Linked DNA regions of Homo sapiens: regions 1 and 3 are each linked to region 2. Evidence: fine-mapped expression QTL. A gene starts in region 2. Each other region holds a variant in brackets. All regions are shown on one strand. Distances are between the middles of the regions.

What was found. PIP is the estimated chance that this variant, and not a neighbour inherited with it, causes the effect.
Region 1: its variant is the best candidate, but not a certain one, in a credible set for the expression of SH3RF3 in lymphoblastoid cells (TwinsUK, PIP 0.70).
Region 3: its variant is the best candidate, but not a certain one, in a credible set for the expression of SH3RF3 in whole blood (INTERVAL, PIP 0.83).

The regions. Positions count from the first base shown.
Region 1 is chr2:109,201,130-109,208,581 of GRCh38, reverse strand. All of the region lies in intron 1 of SH3RF3 (SH3 domain containing ring finger 3), which reads right to left. It also overlaps a transcript of RANBP2 not described here. Among named protein-coding and RNA genes, the nearest start is that of MIR4265, 63 kb to the right of the region's middle. The variant C/G (reference allele first, on the strand shown) is at 4,228.
Region 2 is chr2:109,124,987-109,132,438 of GRCh38, reverse strand. It overlaps SH3RF3 (SH3 domain containing ring finger 3), which reads right to left and starts at 3,234. Exons shown (of 10, transcript NM_001099289.3): 1 at 2,326-3,234. The coding sequence starts at 2,898. SH3RF3-AS1 (SH3RF3 antisense RNA 1) reads left to right here and starts at 2,320. Exons shown (of 1, transcript NR_029193.1): 1 at 2,320-5,112. It also overlaps a transcript of RANBP2 not described here. RefSeq lists silencers at 3,219-3,418, 3,449-3,498, 3,509-3,578, 3,959-4,018.
Region 3 is chr2:109,010,015-109,017,466 of GRCh38, reverse strand. It overlaps a transcript of RANBP2 not described here. Among named protein-coding and RNA genes, the nearest start is that of EDAR, 25 kb to the right of the region's middle. The variant G/A (reference allele first, on the strand shown) is at 3,595.

The DNA of each region.
Region 1 (7,452 bases), 76 kb before region 2:
TGGGAACAGCTCTGCTGCAGGTGGGTCGGTTGGTGCTGGTGGCTCCACTTCCAAGAAAGCTCAATCACATGGAGCTTAGCTGTAACTGTTACTGGGAGCCTTTGCCCTTCTCCACAGGGCTTCTTGGGCTTCCTCACATGATGGCTGGGCTCCTAGACAGCAAGTGTTCCAAGATACAGGAAGCATAAGCTGCCCATCCCTGAAGACCGAGCATGGGAAACTTCTGCTGTATTTGATTGGTCAAAGCAGCCATGGAGCCCAGGTTTAAGGGAAGGGATATGCCCCACCTGCAGGTGGCAGGAGTGTCTGTGGATCTGCAATTCTGCAACCATATCGAATCCATCACATGAAGATGTGAACTAAAACCTCAGCTTTGCTCTGCCAGCAGAGCCAGGTAGGTGCCACAGGGCAGTTGCATGCTGTCTCAGCAGAGCTTAAGCTCAGACTCTGAGCCCATGGGGGCAGCAGCATGTGTGTCTGAGGGCCCAGCACTGTGCCCAGCACAGGCATTCCGTAAATATTTGCAGAATTGTTGAATTTAACAAATCGCATGCTAAAGTTTCTTCTTCTTTTAAATCTCACCAGAATTTAAAAATGGGGGAGGGGGAATGCTCAACTGTGTAAGAGTAAAAGAAGGAATTCCAGATTAGAGCAAAACTAAGCCAAGATCCCTGGGAAAATGATGATACAGGGAAACTGCCATAGGCCAATTTGTTAAATTGGTCCCCAAACAATATGAGGTATAGTTTAATTTTTTTTAAAAAAGAAAATTGTGCCATTTAAACTGATCAAAATCAGTTATAAACCTGAATACAGTTGATTTTAGCAATTTACAACATAAAATAATTCAGTCTCAGGTAAGTCTTCCTATACAAATGTTTTGTTTCCATGTGAAAATAGCTTTCCAAATTCTATAGGTGGCACCTTACATCATACAGCAACTGCACCCCTGGAAACAATCTTAGGGCTCCATTGCATCTTTATTTTCCACAATTTCAATATCTTAATAGCACACAAATAACATTTTGTTCCTAAGAGAAACACTGTTTTACCATGAAATTCCATGACATGCATCTCTCCAAAGGCAGATGGTTCTGCTGCATAACATTATTACATATATAATTACCTACATCACAAATATTTTCAAAATCGAAACTGCCAAGCCTTCTTGCCTGTCACTTTTTCTTATGTTGTCTCCATAGCAACCTGCTTCCCTCCCCCAGAGACAAAGAGAACACAGAAGACATCTTTAAATTGGCATAAATTAGAGACAAATTCTTTAATCAGACACACAGCTTACTCTAATGATTACCATACACCAAAATTATCCAGAAATAATAATTGTAACTCATAAAAATGAACTGCTGTAAACAGACCTGTTTGCACAAGATGAGAGCATAGTTCTAAAATGTGGCACTGTGTCGTCATTGCACCCTCACCCCCAGTTTATCATCCTCTACAGCACACACAGCCCTATCTGCCTTCTTCTTGAGCGCACTAAGCTCCCCAGGCCCTCTCCTCCAAATGAGCATGGTCAGGTTCTGCCTCAGGCCCTGAGTGGTTCTCACCTCCTGCAAATGCAGCGCTCAGCCAAACAGAGGTGTGTTGAAGTTCATTCCAGGCAACCATAACAAGCCACACATGACACAGAGACATGCTATCCCAAACACAAGCTTATGGCCCATGACTGGGCAGAAGGGGCACTGAGAATGCTCAGTCAACTTTGACAATTAGTGCAGAAATAGCAAATGCCAGAGTTAAGTAACTAATAGTGTCTCTCTCTTGTCACCCAGGCTGGAGTGCAGTGGCACAATCATAGCTCACTGTAACCTTGAACTCCTGGGCTTAAGCAATTCTTTGACCTCAGTCTCCTGAGTAGCTGGAATTATAAGCATACACTAATATGCCCAGCTAATTTAAAAAAAATTTTTTTTTTGTAGAGACAGGGTCTTACTTATGTTTCCCAGGCTGGTCTTGAACTCCAGCCTCAAGCTATCCTCCCTCCTTGACCTCCCAAACTGCTGGGATTATAGGTGTGAGCCACCACACTCAGCCTCCTCTAATTCTTTTTTTTTTTTTTTTTTTTTTTTTGAGACGGAGTCTCACTCTGTCGCCCAGGCTGGAGTGCGGTGGCACGATGTTGGTTAACTGCATGCTCTGCCTCCCAGGTTCACGCCACTCTCCTGCCTCAGCCTCCTGAGTAGCTGGGACTACAGGTGCCCTCCACCAAGCCCGGCAAATTTTTGGTATTTTTTAGTAGAGACAGGGTTTCACCATGTTAGCCAGGATGGTCTCAATCTCCTGACCTCATGATCTGCCCACTTCAGCCTCCCAAAGTGCTGGGATTACAGGCGTGAGCCACCGTGCCCGGCCCAGCCTCCTCTAATCTCGACCATAGTTAAAAATATAGTGCTGTGTCCCCAGAATAACATTCTACACCAAGCAAAACCTCCAGGGAGAGAGGGGTGGCTTGGGTCACCCATCCATTCACGTGCAGGTCATACAATGCCCACCGCGGAGGCTGGAAAGGCATCTCAGGGTACAAGTGACAGTTCACCAGGTTAGTCTCCAACTACTACTTGGCCTTGAAACACTTTTGGAGTAAACATGGTAAATCTCAATGTTACAAAGAGCTCAGAAAAACACACATCTACTTTTTTAAGTCAACAAATAATTCATAACCCTTCAGTTGGTTTCTATGAAAAAACAGGAAGCGGAAAGGAGAAAACTCCAACTTTAGGCTCAAGAGTATTTTACACACACAGTGTGCTTCCCTGTCTCTGATCCCCCCGCTGCTTCAGGGAGGCTGCTGGGGAAGGCTGCACAGAGCGGGGCTGCCTTCCTGCCAGTGAGCAAAGTGCACTGCCCCGAAACAACACCTCTGCCCAGAGATCTAGGGCAGATACGGTGCAGACCCTGACACCAACAGACTGAGCCATGTGATTCTCACCGTGGCCTTCTCCCATCTGATGAATATACCCTCTGCACCCCTAGAATGTAGTTTCTGTGTGAGCATAAAGAGTCACATAAGTTGGGCGGGGCACAGTGGTTCACCTGTAATCCCAGCACTTTGGGAGGTGGATGCAGGTGGATCACTTGAGGTCAGGAGTTCAAGACCAGCCTGGCCAACATGGTGAAACCCTGTCTCTACTAAAAATACAAAAAACAAAAACAAAAAATTATCTAGGCATGGTGATGCATGCCTGTAGTCCCAGCTACTCAGAAGGCTGCGGCAGGAGAATCTCTTGAGCTGAGATTGAGCCACTGCACTCCAGCCTGGACGACATGGCAAGACTCAGTTTAAAAAAAAAAAAAAAAAAGTCACATAAGTTGCTCTAATTTTTTTTATCTTATTTTATTATTTATTTATTTTTAGAGACGGAGTTTCACTCTGCTGCCCAGGCTGGAGTGCAGCGGCATAAACATGGCTCATTGTAGCCTCAATCTCTTGTATTCAAGGCATCCTCCTACCTCGGCCTCCCAAGTAGCTGAGACTACAGGCATGTACTTCTATGCCCAGTTAATATTTTTAGTTTTGTAGAGACAGGGTATCACTATGTTGACCAGGCCGGTCTCAACCTCCTGGCTTCAAGTGATCCTCCTGCCTCAGCCTCCTGGAGCACAAGGATTACAGGCATGAGCCACCATGCCCACCCAGTTGCTCTACTTTAAAAGGCAGACTTCTAAAATTATTTCCCTGGAACACAAAAAAGCCTTTAGTTTAGCCCCCACTTCCACGCTACAGAAAATACAGGGAATCAAGAAACAAGTTCAATGGCACCATCAAGAAATGACCCAATAAATCTAGAATGCAGGACATTTGACAAAATAATTGGCTTGGTCTCTTCAAAGGGTCAATACCTTCAAAAGCAAAGTAAGAGACTGCTAGAACAGTTCTCCAATGGGGCATCCTGCCTGCCAGCAGGTCCCTGGCAATGTGTGGGTTGTCACACCTGGTGGTGGAGTAGGTGGCGCTGCCGGCACCTGGAGGATGGAGGCCAGGGACGCTGCTGAACACACCCATTTATGTGTACATTGTACATTGCACACAAATATATGTACAATGTTGAGAAACTAGTCTAGAATAAGGGAGATTGGAGGGGCATAACAAAAGCCACAAGTGAACCCAGTTTTAACAAAAACTACAGCAGATTTTTAAGGGACAATCAGGAAAACCTGAATGTGAACTGGTATTGATAATGATTTAAAAGATAAGATAAGGAGATT[C/G]CTGCTAACTCTCTTAGGTGAGATAACAGGATCACAGAAGAGTGCCCTTATTCTGCAGAGGTGTCTGCTAAATTATCTAGGAATGAAGCAACAGGGCATAAGCAAAGTAAGTTTCATGGTTCACCCAAGACAGACAGACAGACATACAGACAGATAAAAGGAAAGAGCAGATGTGGCAGAGTTAATGGCTGAATCTAAATGGAGAAGAGACAGACCTTCACTGGATTCTCCTTACCCTCTTCGCCTTGTCTGAGACTGTTCATGACAGCCAGTGGGCAGGAGGTGCAAATCCAGGCATTTTTCGAATGGCCTCCTGACGTCTCAAAGATATAAACTACTCGGGTTTTCACACTCAGAGCCCCTTCAAGCCCACAAATGCTTCACACTGGAGCACCGTGCAGATGCTCTGCTGGGAGGCCTTGGGGCCACAACAGCACACACATCAGCCCTGCCATCAAGGGCTGCCAGGCCGCACAGGGAACAAGAAGGGCCCAGGGGTAGGTAGCGAGGCACCCACACAAGAGAGCAAACGCTTCAGAGTCGAGGCGTGCATGAGACAAAGGGCAGGAATGGATGGACCGAGGGTGTGAAAGGTATGTGGGTTCTGTGGGCTGGGCAGAGCATACCCATGGAGAGAAGATGGGGCTCCAGGCCCAGGGGGTGGAAGTGCAGGGTGCACAGAGACACAGGGCCAGGACACTCACATGGGGTGCACAGAGACAGGGCCACGATGCTTGTCGTGCAAAGGGAAAGTGGAGAACAGTGTTCCAGAGAGCTGGACGAACCACATGGAGCAGTCCCAGAGGGCTCCAAATGCATGCCCTGGGATCAGAGCAACTGCATTCAGGAGGCAATGGGGAGCGGTGGGACTTAGGAACTAAGAAGCGACTTAAAGAATATGTCATGGCCAGGGATACAGTGATCGCCTGACCACAGGTGATGCGCTCGTAGGGACGCGGAAACACCCTCCCAAGGCCATCCGTCTCACAACAGGGCAGCATAAGGACTAGCAAGCTCCGCCGCATCTGCGCCACTGTCTGCTGCGTCCACCTGAGAGAGCCACCTGTAGCCTCTTAATTACAGCCACACAGCCTGCCTCATCCTGATGCTGCCCTGGGGCTCTCTGAAGAGGCTCCTGGCTCTCTGCAGGGTCCTTCTTGCGGGCAAGGCATCCTCAATGAGGATGTCACTCAATGAGTGGACAGTGCTCCTTGACTGCTGAGGACACGGACAGGCCCAGGGCACCGTGCAGGGCCACCAGTGTTCCAGGCTCGACGGAGCTTCTGTAGCCTTTGGAGCCTCTTCCCCTCCAATCACTGTAGGACCATGGCCAGGCCAGTATCCTCAGGCCCAAGTGTTACCTTGTTAGGCACAAGTGTTATCCTCAGGCACAAGACCAGCTCCCATTGTGTTTGCATTCCTTCCATGACACCTACACTCTAAAACATTACTATCGGGACAAAACTGTGCTAATCAGCCAAGCAGTTGTTCAGTCCATAAATTCTGCAACACTTAAAGTTGGGCCCTTTCCCGGGAATGGGGCTCTCGACCCCCTTTGCTTAAATGTGTGTATGATCCTAAGAGCTCCATAGTATGGGAAGGGCTGTCGACAGCCCCACGGGAAGGCCGTGGCGTTTCCAGATGGGGAAACTGAGGCTCAGGGAGAGAAGGTGCTCACCCAAGGCTGTGTGCTGGCTGTTTTCCCAGGACCCAGGTTCCTGGGGCCGGGCTGACGCCTCACCCTCTATGCTCTGAAAAAGGAATTCTCAATTTTTAAAGAATAATCACTGCTGACTGCTGGGAGGGGAAGGAGAAAGCAGCCATGCTGACCACCCACCAGCTACCCAGACATGTGAGGAACAAGAACGCGCCCCAGGGACAAAGAGAAAAAGTACTGTGTAATTGTAATTGTACTACATTTAGTAATTGTACTAAAAAGTACAATTAAGTTCGGGCAATTAGGTGTCCCTTCACAAAATCTCAAACAGAGAGTGGAAAGCCCAAAGCAGCCGAGACACACTCCTAGGGAGTTTCATTATCCATCGCTCCCCTCCGAGGGGGTCCAGACGCTGCCGAGATGGACCTGGGAGGCAGCACTGGAGGCAAGGTGGGGGCCGCATCCTCACTCTGCAGTCCACAGGTGGCTTGGGAAACAAGGGAGGGAAGAGAAGGGTTGTTTTCTTCCCCGTGTTCATCTACAAGCTGTAAGTGCGTCCATATGCTGATCTGTCAAGATGAGAAAGTGGCCGAGATCGCCTCGAGGGGAGGCTGTGTGCCTCCTGCCAGCTGTGCTGTCACGAGACCCAGCCAGGCTCCAAGGCAAATACAATGTGGCCTAGGTTCTGTGCCTGTGTCCCGTTTCCTTTGGACATATTACAGGTTACTTTAATTAAAACATTTGCTTCTCCACCAGTTTTTTTATGATGCCACGGGTCCTTGTATTGATTTCAGATGTGTCAGACTCATTGGTAGGAGGCTTAGCAACACAGGACATAATTCTCCCTGGAGGGAGGGCACTATGCCCCATTTAAATAACCCAAGAGATCAGCTGAGCAGCATTTATACCCACTTCCCAAAGCTCATTTCCTACCAATGCTCCTTTCACCGCTTGGCTGTGCCCCTGGGCTGTACGTGGCTCTCCATGCAAGGCGCAGCGTTTCCCATGCTGCTGACGGGCTGGAGAAGTGGGCAGACACTTGCCTCCTGACACAAACGTCCCAAACGAAGGCCATGCTGTGAGAGGCCCGGCATGGTCCCAGATCACACTTTCAGAGACCTCAAAACTGAAAGAGGAGGAGAGCAACTTCCAAACCAGGGAGGGGAGACCCTAGCAGGAGACAGCAAGGGTGGCCTGGGGTAGCCAGGGGGAGAGAGAGATAAGAGAGAGAGAGGTGGGACTGCTGGCCTGTGGCGGCTGAGATACCTGGATGTGTGCCTGGAGACAGAGAGATCCGGGAAACAGCCTGCACACAGGCAAGGGGCCAAGGCCCAAAGCCCAGGCCATGTACCTGTGGGTTCTAGGTCACAGATCAGGGAGGCCTGTGGGAGAGTGGGGCTGGGGTCTGTCTGTGAAAGGCTTCAAATACAAGGCCAGCAAAATTTTCACTTTGCAAAATGAGTTTTTAAGTGCAGAAGAGGCAAAACTAAAGCATCATTTCAGGACCGTGCATCTTGCAGCCATGCAGAGGCCGCCGGAAGGAAGACGTGTGAAGCCAGAGCCGTACC
Region 2 (7,452 bases):
TGATCACCAAAACCGATGAAAAACAACAGGTAAAGAGTTCAGGAAAACACTGTTTTGTGTCCTGCCAGTAAAACCAAACAGAAATTAAAACTTTTTTTTAAATAAAGCTGTCAAAATATTGAACCGTAACAAAATTAATAAAGTAAACAAGCTATGCCAATACTTACCTATATACCTAAAAAGTATACATACCCTAATTGGCCCAAAAGAAGATGTAAGGAGCTTCTAATTGGAAAATGATGGGACTGTAATATTTATGGTTACCTGCTATCATGGCATATTAGTTAAATAAGTGCCCCTCTATTAAACAACATGCAACAACATCCAGCATTCAACTTTCCTGGCAGGAGTCAAGCAATTCCAATGGACAGTAAAGTACCAAAAGTAATTTTCAGCCGAAATCTTTGTCAACCAACTGTATAGGGTTGCTCAATGCCTGATATGCTATTACAATCCTTCCCACTCCCGAAGCATGTGCTGGACCTAATGCTATTATCCCAGCATGGTAGTATAGTGCTAGTGTAGTGTGAATACACCATGCGGGACTCCTGCTTATTAGTTAAATAAGTGCTCGTCTATTAAACAACATCCAGAAACATCCCAAAAACACAAAAAGTCATGAACATGACTATGCACCCATAAAGAAAGTCAACCAAGGGTCTCAACATATGGTGAGTAAAACATCAATTTCCTGCTAATACTAAATGTCACTACTAAAAAGTTCCAAGCTTCAACCCCTTTGACAAGTTCTAAAAGGTACTACAAATGCCACAGAATTCCCGGAGTGGCATCAAAGCTTCAGCCTGTCACATGTCAGAGGTTACCTCCTAACCTCCTGGTCAAACACAAAGTCCCCCAAGATAAACTGAGAGGACATCTGTAAACAGATGGTCATCAGAATGTCCCAGCGTTTTACTAGAAGCGGGGCTCCGAATATCACATAATTTATCAGAACAGAAGAAGGTAACCCACTTATTCTGCAAATAAAGATATTTAATTATAAATACCTTACATCAAAAACAGCAAGGCCAGGAAGGAAAAGTTTGAAAATTTCTAACGCAAGCATTTAGCTGGATTTAATCACAATTAAAACCAAAGAAAAAAATTCCCCTTCAGCAGTGCCCCCCAAGTGACCCCCAGTGACTATCCTTGACTGTCCCCATTCTTCCTGATCCATAGAAAAAAAAACCCATTGCAGCAAAGTATGGCATTTAACTCAAGCTCAACATCCAAGGGTTTAAGTTCCTAACCTTAACCTTAGAGATTTGCAGTACTGCCTAATCCAGGTGCTAGAATGTTCCCAGCATTTCAGGATTACACATAGTGGAAGGACTAGGCATCACCAACTCCTTAAATGGTCAAAAGTAGAGGAATAAAGTTGTGTTTCTAAAGCAAATGATTATTCCAATAGATAATGTATTTTTTTTAACATTTAAGTGCTTTTCTCCATTTAAAGAAATTAACAAAACCCGGGTCCTTTCTTTTCTCATTTAAACCAGCATCCCATGCCCTCTCTCCTGGTAACTGTTCACAAGGTGGCAAGGGTGTGTAATAAGAAGCTGTAAGAAGCTTTTAAAACCAAATCATTGAAGCCATCCAGAGAAGATCTTTCGTCTAAAACAGAAGCAGCGAAGGCCCTAAAATGCGGCTGTACCAAAAATAATAATAATAAATATAAATGACCCCCGTGGGAATGCAACCCTGCCTGGGAGCCCAGGAGAAGACCTTGGCTTCTGGTTAGACACTGCCAAGTCCAAAAGGGCTGGGTCAAAAGGCTCCTGGGGCCTCCAGATTAACTCCTTCCAGACTACTAGAAGCATTCCTCCAAACCCCAGTCCCACTCTGCCTTCTGCCCTCCCCTCCTTAGCCACACCGCAGGCAGGAGGCCCGCGGGCTTCCCAGAGCAGCCATCAGAGCCCTGTCAGAAACGTTAAGGGCTAACTTTTCTCTAGGCAGGCCCAGGGTGTGCAGAGGGAGTGTCTGGGGACCCAGAGGAAGAAGGTCCCCGTTTCTAGGGAGACGCAAGGGCGATGCTAAGTTTAAGAGGCAGGGTAACAAGTCCGGCCAAGGAATCGGGGGTGAGCGACGGGACAGGAAGGCGTGCCCACTCCACAGGAGGATGGGACACACGTGAACAAGCGGCGAGCTGCCCAGGGGCCGGATGCCGCCACCAAGCAAGCGAAGTTGGAGGAAGAGCAACAGCGGAGTGGGCCAACGCAGGACCACCCGTGGTCTCCTCCGCACCTCATCACTGCCCCCCACGCCCAAGCACCCACCCACACACTCCCACGTGCCGTGGCCACTTCCGCCGAGACAGATACTCACCTTTGCCGCCGGCGCGGTCCTGCTGGTCGCCAGCTCCCGCAGACTGCCGGCGGTGCTGCCCGCGGCCGCGGAGAGGAAAACCGGGGAACCCGGGGTGCTGCCTGCCGCGCCGCCCCCGCCGCCCGCGAGCGTGGGGGCCGCACTCTGGCCTGGGATGGGACGCGCGGGCGGGCTGCCGCCGGGGCTGGTGCCCGCGCGGGGCCGCTGACGGATGCCGTCCAGCAGTCGCACCAGCAAGATGTTGGCGGGCAGTTCGTCCACGCCGCAGCCCACCAGGATGCGGCACTCGGGGCAGCGCAGCTCGTGGCGCGAGCACACGATGCTCTCCAGGCAGCGGCGGCAGAAAGTGTGTTGGCATGGCAGCACCTTGGCCGTGGTGTCCAGGCGCTCCAGACACACGGAGCACTCCAGCAGGTCCAGCAGCGACGACTCGTCCATGTCCTCGCCCGCCCCCGCGGCGGTGGCCGCCGCCCGACGCCGCCGTCGCTCGCCTGGCCTGTCCTCGTCGCCCTCGCTCTGCGCAGCAGCGGCGGCCGCCTTGGATGCGCACAGCCAGGACGCTCCGAGCAGCATGGGGGAGGCGCCCGCAGCGGTCTCGCGCGGCTGCCTAGGTCCCGGGGCCGGCGTGGAGCCCGCCACCGGCAGCCAGCATCAGGACTGGGGAGCCGGGCTCCGCCGTGACTTTCTTCACCCCGGCTGGTGGCCCGATGCTAGGGCTGTGGCGGTGCGAAGTGGCTCACCGACCGGCCTGCGTGGCGGGGACCGGCCTGCGTGGCGGGGACCGGCCAGCCGAGCCCGCCCAGTCCTGAGCGCAGCGCCTGCGGCTGCGGGCTACACCTGTCCCGCCGCAAGTCCGCCCCGCGCGGGGGACCGGGGGTGCTGCCGGGCACGAAGCTCAACGGGTTCTGTGCTGCAAGCGGCGGCTCGCGCCTGGGAGACCAGCGGCAGGAAGTGCGGGCAGCGGCCGGCCAGGTCCCCGGGGAGGCCGGGGCGCGGCGTGCACGCTCCTCCGCGCAGCTGGCGAGCCGCACCGCCCCCGCGGCACCTCCATGCGCCCCTGGCCTGCTCGCTAGTCGCTGTCCTCCAGAGGATTCAGCAGGACCGTTCCTCTTCCTCGGCCGCGAGCACGTGCGCGGGGGTGCGCGCGGAGGTCACGGTCACTGCGGGGCTCAGGGAAGGAGGCGCCGTGCCTGCAGGACTTCCCTTCGCTTGGGCGCAAGCCGGCGATTAGCCTGGTCCCCTAGGACATCTCCAGGGCTCCGGGGAACCTCTCCTGCGCAGGCTTGGCCCTGCCTCCTCCAAGCGTCCGAGTCTTTTTCGGCTTTTCGTGAGCCTCAGAGAGGGACGTTTCCTGCCAACGCTGCTGCGAAGGAAAGTTTGGGCGGCGTTATCCCGACTGCCTTCCTCGCCAGCGCCGGCGAGCAGCTTGGGGACACAGCCGACGCCCGGGCATCCTCCCCGACGACCCCCCGGAGCGCTCCCAGTTCAGACTCCTTTCCGAGAAGCGCGCAGAAGTGACAGCCCCGGAGCTTCGTTCCGGTGTAGGTGTGGGGATGCGCCGCAAGGCAGGAGGGGAAGGCGCTCCAGTTGAAGGGGGCACCCCGGGGCCCGCGCCGACTCCTCCCGGCGCAGCCTTGGCTCGCCGGAGTCGCGGGTCGGAGGCTGGCGCCGCTGCCCGCCGACCAGCACCCTGGCGCCAGGCGCCCGGCTCCACGCCGCACCCTTGGCGACGCTGTGCGAGGGGCTCTAGCGCCCGCCGCGGCGCAGTCTCGTGAACCCCCGCTCCAATTTTTTCCTACGGAGGCGCAGAGGAGGGTGAATTCGCGCTCTCCTTCCCGACGCCCCGGCTTCTGGGAGCGTCAGAGCAACGGAAGTACGTACAGGAGGACCGAGAGCAGCAGGGAAGTTTGGCGGTGGGCTGGGGTCGGCGGCGAAGATTCCCTGCCGTGCGCTGCCCCCTCGTGGCCGCTTTGCGTTCCCGTCGGGAAGGGCTGGGTTCCAGTCCAGGGCCCAGCACAAACCAGGATTGGTTGGACGCTGCACAGCGAGTTCAGTCAGGGCTAACATCAGAAGAGTCGTGGGGGGCCTGCCTATCGGCCAGCCTGTCCTTGTGGTTTGTGAAGTTGTATGATCTTTCTGTTATTATTAAGGAAAAAAGTAGTATTTGTTGAGGCTAAAAGGCCAAGAGCGTGCTATATATTATTTAATCCTCTAAACAGCTCTGCCAGATAATTATTTTATTTATTTATATTTACTTCCATAGCTTTAGACAGGATCTCGTTCTGTCAGGCAGGCTAGAGCGCGGGGTGCTATCACGGCTCACTGCAGCCTCAAACTCTTGGGCTCAAGCCATCCTTTCACCTCAGCCTCCTGAATAGTTGAAACTACAGGTGCGCCACCACGCCTGGCTAAATTTTTAATTTAAATTTTTTGTAGCGACAGGGTCTCCTTATGTTGCCCAGGCTAGTCTCAAACTCCTGGGCTCAAGAGATCCTCCAACCTCATCTTCACAAAGTGCTGGGAGTACAGGCGCCAGCCACGGTGCCCAACCTGTGATAATTATTTTAAACTCATTTTACAAATGAGGAAAGTGATATTCATACTTGTAAAGCCATTGGGGCTGAATTTTCATTTTTGTATCCACAGAACTAACACATAAAGTTTACATGCCATTAGAATGTAAGCTCTCTGTAAGCTACAGATCTTTTCTACTGTAATATCCTTAGTGCCTAGGGCAGTGACTAGCATATAGTAGGTGTTCAATAAATATTTGTAGAATTAATGAAAGGATACGTCTCTCTTTCTCTCTCTCCCTCTCTCTCTCTCTCTCTCTCATCACCTACTGGTGATTTGAAGGCAGATCTTAGTATCTCAATTACACATATCCTGTGCTTATATCAGGATGCTAGTCCCTGGAAACTTTGCTTCTGATAGCAGCAGGTGGCTTTCTTAACCTGGATGTCTCTCAGCAATGTGGATTTCCATCTGTATGATTTACATCAGCGCCAACAACAGGGTGAGATGGAAAGCATCCCAGAGCTGCCTGGCTTCCCTTGAGGGCCGAAGGAAGGGCACACACCTCGCAGTGCATGGAAACATGTTCACATGAGCCACCTTTCACTCTTACCCTTGCTCAGGAACAAGGGGAATTTTTTAGAGCACCCAGGATGCTTGATCCAAGAGCAGATGGTAGACAAGGGGGAGCATAAAGAGGGGACCCATCAGGCACTGGAAGGGCTCACAGAGAGCAAGGACGGCCTGTGACGACATGCCCTGGTGCTTTTGGTTGCAAGCAACAGAAACCAACTCTAGGTAAATTTTAAAGGGAGCAGAATATACACTAATAATACGAGGCATCTCATAGGATCCCAGGCTAAGAGCTGAGCCAGATTAGCACAGATAGAGCCTGCAGTGTGTGTTGCTGTCCCTGTCTCTAGTTGATGACTCAACCCTTCACTTTCTTGCACCAGCTGCCTCTGCTTCCCAACCCACATGACAGAAAATGCGGTCAAATCTTCATGAGCCTTTCTTCCAACAACATCAGCCACTCCTGGAAGTTCTAAAACTCTATCACTAGTATGGACCAGTGGTCACTCTTTGGACCCGTGTGCCTTGGCCACAGGAGCAGGATCATCTGGAACCTGGCAGCACTCTCTGTAGTCACACAGGAGAAGTGAGAATTTCCAGAAGAATTGCCGTGCTGGGCAGTCAGAACCACAGATGCCCGTGCCAGAAGCTCACCGCCACATCTCTGCCCTCAGTACATCTTTATCTTGCACGACCCAAGACAGACAAGAGCAAGAGAGAGCCACTTAAGCCCACCTTTCCCAGCTTTCTTCTCTCTCCACTTTACCCCTTTTGCCCCTGCCATAACCAGCACCCACAGGACACACAGACTATGCACCCAGATGTCCACAGTGACTGGGCAGGGCATGAAATTAACGAAGCAGGGTGAACCCCAGGCAACAGGGCCTGGTGGGGACTGCAGTGAGCTTTGTCTGCACCCTTCAGAGGAAGTAGCTGCTGCCCAGCTCCAGCCCTGGGGGAATGACGACCAAATGTTGCTAGACCTTCATACCTTTCAAGAGAAGTTGGAAGTGCTGCTTTTTACATGACATCTCCTGATGTTCAACAGTTGGCAACCGATTTAGTTCTCAAAAACCACCATATTAGCCAAACAAAATAAATGTGTGGTCAAATTGGCCTACAGACCGCCAGTTTACAATTTCTGGTTGAAGTAGCCAAGTACACTGTGCTACAGCGTGAGGGAATTTGAGGGTGTGAACTAAATAGTTGAAGTATTACAAATACAGTCTTATGTTACTCGGTTAAATTTGCACATGTTCAATAAGCCAATTATATAAGTAAATAATTGAGAAGACCTGGCTTTACAGCCATTCCTAAAAAGATCTGGGGATTTCAGTTGACCACAAGCATTGTATGAGCCAACATGAGTCATCTATGTACTATGGCTGACTAGAGAAGTAACGAAATCTTCGGATGCCTTCATGAAAGTTAAGGTGGGGGGTGGTCAGGGTTTGGAAAAAAATAATCCCATTGTACCTCAGACTTGTGAGATTACTTCCAATTCTGGGTACCAAAAATTAATGACGATGTGGTAAGGGATCCGGAGGCCTCATCCATGAGTTTCAGTTGAAGGAACACAGGGCGTCTGTCCAAAGGAGAAAAAGCTCAGAGGAAACAGGACTGGACGGCTGTATGTCAGGTTTTTGGCGGCCCAAAATTTGAACTTCTTTTTAGATTTGGAAGACGCTCCACATGGTGATAGTCAGATAATTCTAACCCCCCCACCAACTCTGCTAAGGTGTGGGAATGTGACAGGCTCAGCTAGTCAAAAGCTGCCCCTCCCCCACCACACTCTGGGAGGTGGAGGGACGTGGGCAGAGGAAGCACCGAGAGTTCAGCAGCTATGGGGCAGGTGGCTGGCAGCAGCAGTGCCTGCAGCCTGTAGCATCTCAGAGTGGGGGCACGCCTTGGCAACAGGCCAACCCCAGACTTGACTGCCTGGTGAGCCTGGACTGTAGCCTCCACTGCTTTCCTGGCCTTGCTGTTGATCTTATGGGTTTTCCAATTTCATTTCCTTAGTTTCTTTTTCGTTAAATCAAC
Region 3 (7,452 bases), 110 kb after region 2:
CCCCACGCCATCCTGTGATTCCCAAGGTCTCTTGTTGCTTCCACCACTTGCTCGCTCTCTCTCTCATTCAGAAGCTGATGGACAGCAGGGACAGGGGCTGCCCAGGCGCCAAGCCCATGACTCCAGAGGGCCTCAGGATCGTATCAAAGAGTTTCAATCATTCAGCTGCCCCCAGAGCTTTGGAAAAGTTGTGACATATTCATGGCATGCACAAAGAAACACACCACTTCCAGGATCTGAACTCTGACCAGTTGTTTGTGGCATGAGCCTTTGGCACGCAGAGAATGGCAAAGGTTTCTACCGGGTGTGACTGAAGGGAGAGAGCCCTCTCTGTGCTGCTAAGAGAAATGATGGGAGAATAAGTCAAGATAGAAAAACATTGAGGAAACTATGCTCAGCACATTCAGAACAACTATATATTCCCTGGTGCCATGCTTTGCATGGGAGGCAGGGAGCAAACCTTCTGAAGTCAGCTTCCTGTCTCCAAATCACAGACCTCAGACTAGTCATCCTACCCTTTCACACCCGAGTTTCCATAGGGGGCAGTGGGAATTGTATCCCGTTCTTTCCCCTCCTGCGTCCCTCCATAGCAGTTCATGAACTTCCACCCCATTAACTCTCCTGTTGTATCTGCCAGCGACTGCCACAATTACGCCAAATAAAACGCCACCCCAAACTCACTGCTTCACATAATCATTTATTCTCACTCACATGCATGTGCCTGCCTGGGCGTCGCCTGGCTGGGAGCCCACTGGCCAGCAGGGCTTGGCTCTGGGCAGCAGGTAGGGCCAATCCTGCCTCCCTGCCTCAATGTCTCTCCTGCTCCCTGCAGCCAGGTCCCGGGCTTGCTCTCGTGGATGAGGTTTGAAGCTCACGAGCACATGTGGAAACATGCTAACCTCGGGACGCCTAGGATCAGGACTGGCATGTGTCCTTTAAACACACACGACTGGCCAAAGCAAGTCACATGGTCAAACCTCAAATCAAATGGTGAGGAAGCACATTCTGCCTCTGGTGGAAGAACTTCAAAGTCTCATGGGAAGGAAAGGGGGAAGGTTGGTAACAATAATACCACCTATCCACCCGGCGCGGTGGCTCACGCCTGTAATCCCAGCACTTTGGGAGGCCGAGGCAGGCAGACGTGAGGTCAGGAGATCGAGGCCATCCTGGTGAACACGGTGAAACCCTGTCTCTACTAAAAATACAAAAAAAAAAAAATTAGCCGGGCGTGGTGGCCGGCGCCTGTAGTCCCAGTTACTTGGGAGGCTGAGGCAGGAGAATGGCGTGAACCCGGGAGGCGGAGCTTGCAGTAAGCCAAGATCACGCCACTGCAGTCCAGCCTGGGCGACAGAGCGAAACTCCGTCTCAAAACAAAACAAAACAAACAAAAAAACCAATAACACCACCTACCACAACTGTGAAGAAAATAACAGGCATACGAATGCTAATGCAGTTTAAGATGCCCCATGTGTGCTATACACACTTCATATATCCACTGACCCTTGAACAGCATGAAGTGGGGGCACCGACCCCTGTACAGCTGAAAACCCGTGTCTAACTTTCAACTCCTCAAAAACTTAACGACTGATAAGCTGCTGTTGACCAGAAGCCTTACGGATAACATAAACAGTTGATTAGCACATATTTTATATGTTATATGTATTATATACCGTATTCTTTATTTTTTTATTTTATTTATTTATTTTTTTGAGACAGAGTCTTGCTCTGTCGCCCAAGCTGGAGTACAGTGACATGATCTCGGCTCACTGCAACCTCCACCTCCTGAGTTTAAGCGATTCTCCTGCCTCAGCCTCCCAAGTAGCTGGGACTGCAGGCACTCCCCATCATGCCCAGCTAATTTTTGTATTTTTAGTAAAGGCAGGGTTTCACCAAGTTGGCCAGGCTGGTCTCGAACTCCTGGCCTCAAATTGTCCACCCACCTCGGCCTCCCAAAGTGCTGGGAATACAGGCATGAGCCACTGTGCCCGGCCTATATACTGTATTTACAATAAAGCAAGCTAGAGAAAAGAACATGTTACTGAGAAAAGCATAAGGGAGAGAAAATATAATTACAATTCATTAAGGGGAAGTGGATCATCACAAAGGACTTCATCCTCAACATCTTCACATTGAGTGGGCTGAGGAGGAAGAGGATGAGGGGTTGGTCTTGCTGTCTCTGTCTTGGGTCGCAGAGAAGGAAGAAAATCCACTTGTTAGTGGACCCAGTAGTTCAAACCCAGGTTGTTCAAGGGTCAACTGTATTAACACATTTGTTCCCACCACAACTCTCTGAGTTCTATTACTATCTTTTTTTTTTTTTTTTTTTTTTTTTTTTTTTTTTTTTTTTTGAGATGGAGTCTCGCTCTGTCGCCAGGCTGGAGTGCAGTGGCGTGATCTCGGCTTACTGCAACTTCTGACTTCCTAGCTCAAGCAATTCTCCTGCCTCAGCCTCCCGAGTAGCTGGGATTACAGGCATGTGCCACCACGCCTGGCTAATTTTTGTATTTTTAGTAGAGATAGGGTTTCACCATATTGGCCAGGATGGTCTCGATCTCCTGACCTCGTGATCCGCCCACCTGGGCCTCCCAAAGTGCTGGGATTACAGGCGTGAGCCACCGCGCCCAGCCTATTACTATCTTTATTTGTAGATGAGGAGAATGAGGAGGAAAGACATTAAGTCACTTGCCTGCACCACACTCATGCTGGGGCTGGGATCTAGAGCCGTGTCTGGCTCTGCGCCCTGCACGCCTCTCACACGTGCATCCTGCAACACCACAGCAAGGTCTCTGCCAGTGAACTGGGGAAGGCCCACACAGGCTCCAGGCATGGGAAAACCTGGTCAGAAATGTGTGGCTTGTGACTGTAGGTTCCGAGGACTTGGAACTGGCCAGAAGAACAAAGGTTACTTCTGTTTTGTTCAAGGTCACCAGTGAGACCTTGGTTGTACTTAACATAGAAACTGGCTCAAGAACACAGTTGTGTTTTTGAACATCACCCAGACAACAAATGTCTTCCCCCTTGCTCAACAGATATGAACCACAGGTGCTGAGGAAAGAGGTTCAAGCTGAGAGAAGAAGAATGCAAACTACAGGGAGGTCCTGCTCCAAGAGAACAGGCCCAGGACACATCCACATCAGGGTTTTCAAATTGGGTTTTGGCCACCTGGTCTTCACCACAGCGTGGGTGTCTCGCCTCATCCCTATCCAGGATCCTTGTGTCTCTCAACTCCATTTTCCTAAAGTAATGGCTGTTGGGCAGCCCTGCTGAAAGAAAGCCTGTCTCTTCACATGGGGGAGACCATTATTATCTAGCAGGAGATAATCTGATGGATTTCAATGGCTTACTAAAAAATCAATTTATTGTAGAGCTGAAAGGCTTGCTGGTTGGTAAACAATGCATATCAAATTTTGTCCTTAAGATATTCAACCTCCAGCTGGCTTGTTGCACTATCCAGCAAGCTCAGAACTGGAATGTCTCCATTGTCGCTCAAGAATGAGGAGCAAAATAACTGTAATTTACTTTCAAAACTCCAACTTTAGTAACAAGCCAGAAATGGTGATAGGCATAAGCCATTAAGAATGATTGGAAAGGGCC[G/A]GGTGTGGTGGTTCATGCCTGTAATCCCAGCACTTTGGGAGGCTGAGGTGGGCAGATCACGAGGTCAAGAGTTCCAGACCAGCTGGCTAACATGGTGAAATCCCGTCTCTACTAAAAATACAAAAATTAGCCAGGGGTGGTGGCGCGTGCCTATAATCACAGCTACTCAGGAGGTTGAGGCAGGAGAATTGCTTGAGCCCAGGAGGCAGAGGTTCCAGTGAGCCGAGATCACCCCACTGCACCCCAGAGTGAGACTCCATCTCAAAAAAAAAAAAAAGATTGGAAAGAGATTGCCTTGCACTTTGCAATATAAACATATACCATGTGTATGCCAAAGAATTGCTTTATTGCAACGTCACCGGAGCACACACCCTCTGCTTTTCTAATGATGTATTTGTACTTTATTCAGTTGTCTGTAACCCAAGTGCACTGATGCCTCCCACAAACTCTCATAGTGGTCAGATGTGCCTCTAAAGTGAACCATCCATTGCATGTGTAAGAAAATGCTTCCTATGCTGACAATAAAAACGTAGCTTTGCAAAAACCTGCTGTGAACTTGACCTCACTTTGGTGAGGCAGTAACTGATGACTAACAAGTCACCTCTGCACAGGTTAATCCCCTGGCTGATATCAAGCGCCGAAGGAAGCGGATGTCCTTATTGCATAGTTGCTCGCCAAAGGAAGGCACTACTGGCATGAGAGAAATTGATGTCATTAGAAGTAGAGAAACCATGTGAAGCAGCCACTGGGCTGAGCCAGTGTTGTCAATTACAGGCTCCTTGGCTGGAATTCTGCAAAATCTTAAATAAGGTGTTAGGTGTTAAACTCACCTGTGGTGAGCATGGAGTTTCGCCCTACTCGGCCCTTTAAAGAGTCCTGGCAGGTTGTAGCCACTTTTCCTCCGGAATATACAAAGTTCCTCTCTCTGAATGAAGTTTTTTTTGTTGTTGTTGTTTTCTGAGATGGAGTCTCGCTCTGTCGCCCAGGCTGGAGTGCAGTGGCCTGGTCTCTGCTCACTGCAAGCTCCGCCTCCCAGGTCCACGCCATTCTCCTGCCTCAGCCTCCCGAGTAGCTGGGATTACAGGCTCCCGCCAACACGCCCGGCTAATTTTTTGTATCTTTAGTAGAGATGGGGTTTCACCGTGTTGGCCAGGATGGTCTCGATCTCCTGACCTCGTGATCCACCCGCCTCGGCCTCCCAAAGTGCTGGGATTACAGGCGTGAGCCACCGCGCCTGGCCGAATGAAGTTTAAAAATTTTTTTTTCTAAGGAAAAGAGGAGAAAGCAGGGTGGAGGAGGGGCTAAAAGCAGAAGCTTGGGCTTCATTGTCATTCTGTGAAGTGCCGGAGGGGCCACTGAAGAAGCAAGAGTCCCTGACCCTCTCCGCCGTTCCTTCTGCTTTGCAATCCCAGGGCTGGGGGGAAAAGGAGCGTGGGAGGAGATTCAAGGTAGATTCTGTGGGGGCTCTCAAGACCGAAGGATGCCAGGTACGCCTGAAGACAGAGCCACCGCTGGGAATCAGGGGCGGTAGGAATGTTGGCACCCCAAGTGTGGAGACCCCCCACCCTTTCCTCCCAGGCAGCTCTTGGCCCACTAGCAGTCAGGCTCATACCCTCCAGGGGAGCAAACTGTCCAGCCCAAGAGGAAAATCCTGAGGACACCAATGATGTGAGTTCCCAAAGATGTGGCTCTGCTGTGTCACCCTAAAATAGAGCTTGAAGTCAGCAAACCTCAGAGCTGCCAAAGAGATTTTTAATCTTCCGCTCTTAAATATGAGAAGATGATGGGAGATAACCCAATATCTGGGTAAACATTCAAATGTGAAACACAGAAACAAAAACAGACGAATCGAAAAACAGAAGAAAGTGACTTGCAATCACACTGGCATTAGTGTCCTCAGAAAGGTACGGGAAGATGTTGCATCTAAAAGAAAAGAGTAAAATCACACACACACACACATATGCACATACACATGGCACACACACATGCACACATACACGCACACACATATACATGCACACTCACTATTTTCAAGGAATGACTAGAGAATTAAAAGAGCTTTGGGAAATTAAGAAATTACAGCAGAAATTAAAGATTCAATAGATGGGTTTTGAATTCAAGTAAAGGTGAGTGAGGAAGTTTCCCAGAAAGTAGAGGAGGGAAAAAGACTAACAAACAAAAACAGAAAATAGCAGAGGAAAAAATGAGAAGATCCAGCTCCAGAGCTCCAATATCCTCATAACAGCAGTTCCATAGAGAGAGGACGCAGCAAATGAAGGTGGGTATCTCGTCAATAAAATTTGGGCCCACTGAGCGCCCAACACAATGGGTGAAAGTTGAACCACACTGTGCTACATCATCATAAAATTTCAGAAATTTGAGAACAAAGACCCTATTAGCTTATGGAGAAAAGAACAAACAGAAAACAGATTACATACAAAGACCAGGAATCAGGATGGCTTGGCACTTCCCAATGGCAACACTGAAGGCTAGAAATCTTAAAGAACATGATCGCTAACCTAGAATTTTATGCCCATCCAAACTATGAATAAAGAAGGGTATGGAATGGAGACATTTTCAGACATTCAAGACCTCAAAACATTCACAGCCTATGAATTCCAGTTGTTCTGTAATTGTTCCTGAAGATGTGCTCAACAGAAACAAGAATATAAGCTAATAAAAAGGAAAACATGGGCTTCCCAGAAAATGGGATCTAACGCAAAAGAAAAAAGGCAAAAGAACTCATCTGAGTGATGAAAGGTGACCCTAAGATGACACAGTGCACTGGGTACAGAGTATGACTAGTCCCCCAGAACTTCCTCCCTTAATGGTTCCAGACTAGCCTTGGCCAAAGAGACACCTTGCATGAGACTGAGAAGGTGAAGGTGAAGCAGCAGCCATGTACAGTGGAAAGGTGGGTGCAGGGAACCAGGAGTGGTTGCAGCTCACACACATCGTCAGCAACCTGTAGGCTCACCTGTAGCAGCCGGGCCTCTGCCATCCAGCTGCTGCTGAGCCTCCTCCATAGATTCCTTGGAATCCTGAGCAATTTTTAACTCTATGGAAACAAAAAGATGGGCAAGAAGAGAAATGCCATCACAATATATCATGTGTCTTAGCAGTGAATAGAATTTACATGGTAAATGTTTGTATCTCCCTGCAAATTCATATGTTGAAGCACTCACCTCCAGTGTGATGGTATTAGGAGGTGGGGTCTTTGGGAGGTGATTAGGTTTGGATGAGGTCATTAGAGAAGAGACCCCAGAGCTCCCTCTCGCCACCACGTGAAGACACAGCAAGAAGACAGCCATCTGCAAGCCTCACCGGGAACTGAATCGGCCAGCACCTTGATCTCAGACTTCTAGACTCCAGAACCATGAGTAATAAGCCACTCTGTCCGTCGTATTTTATCATAGCAGCCCAAGCTGACTAAGATGCATGCACATGATGATGTAAATGCTGAATGCTGGTTGCATCAAAGTTACTAGACAGCTGAACTGGGGAGAAAGCAGGATGGGAAGAGTGTGTGGGTGTTGAAGGCTGGGGGGGTGGGGGTGGGGCAGTTAAAGAGCTAAATGCTTACCTTCCGTAGAGGATGCCAATAGTATCTAAAACTGAAGCTTTCAGATACAGCAATATAAGCATGTTATTAAAAGACATGATTCATAATCATCGGCTAAAAAGTGGTTGCCTCAAAGGATCAAAAGGAAGAGGGAAGGGATTGCCACCCTCATAAGAAGCCATAAAGAACACAATGCCCACTATGTAAATATATACATAAAATTTTTTTTAACGGAAGTATCCATTTACAATGTACAAACTTAGAAGAACTGTTAAATACTTTACAGTACATCCAGT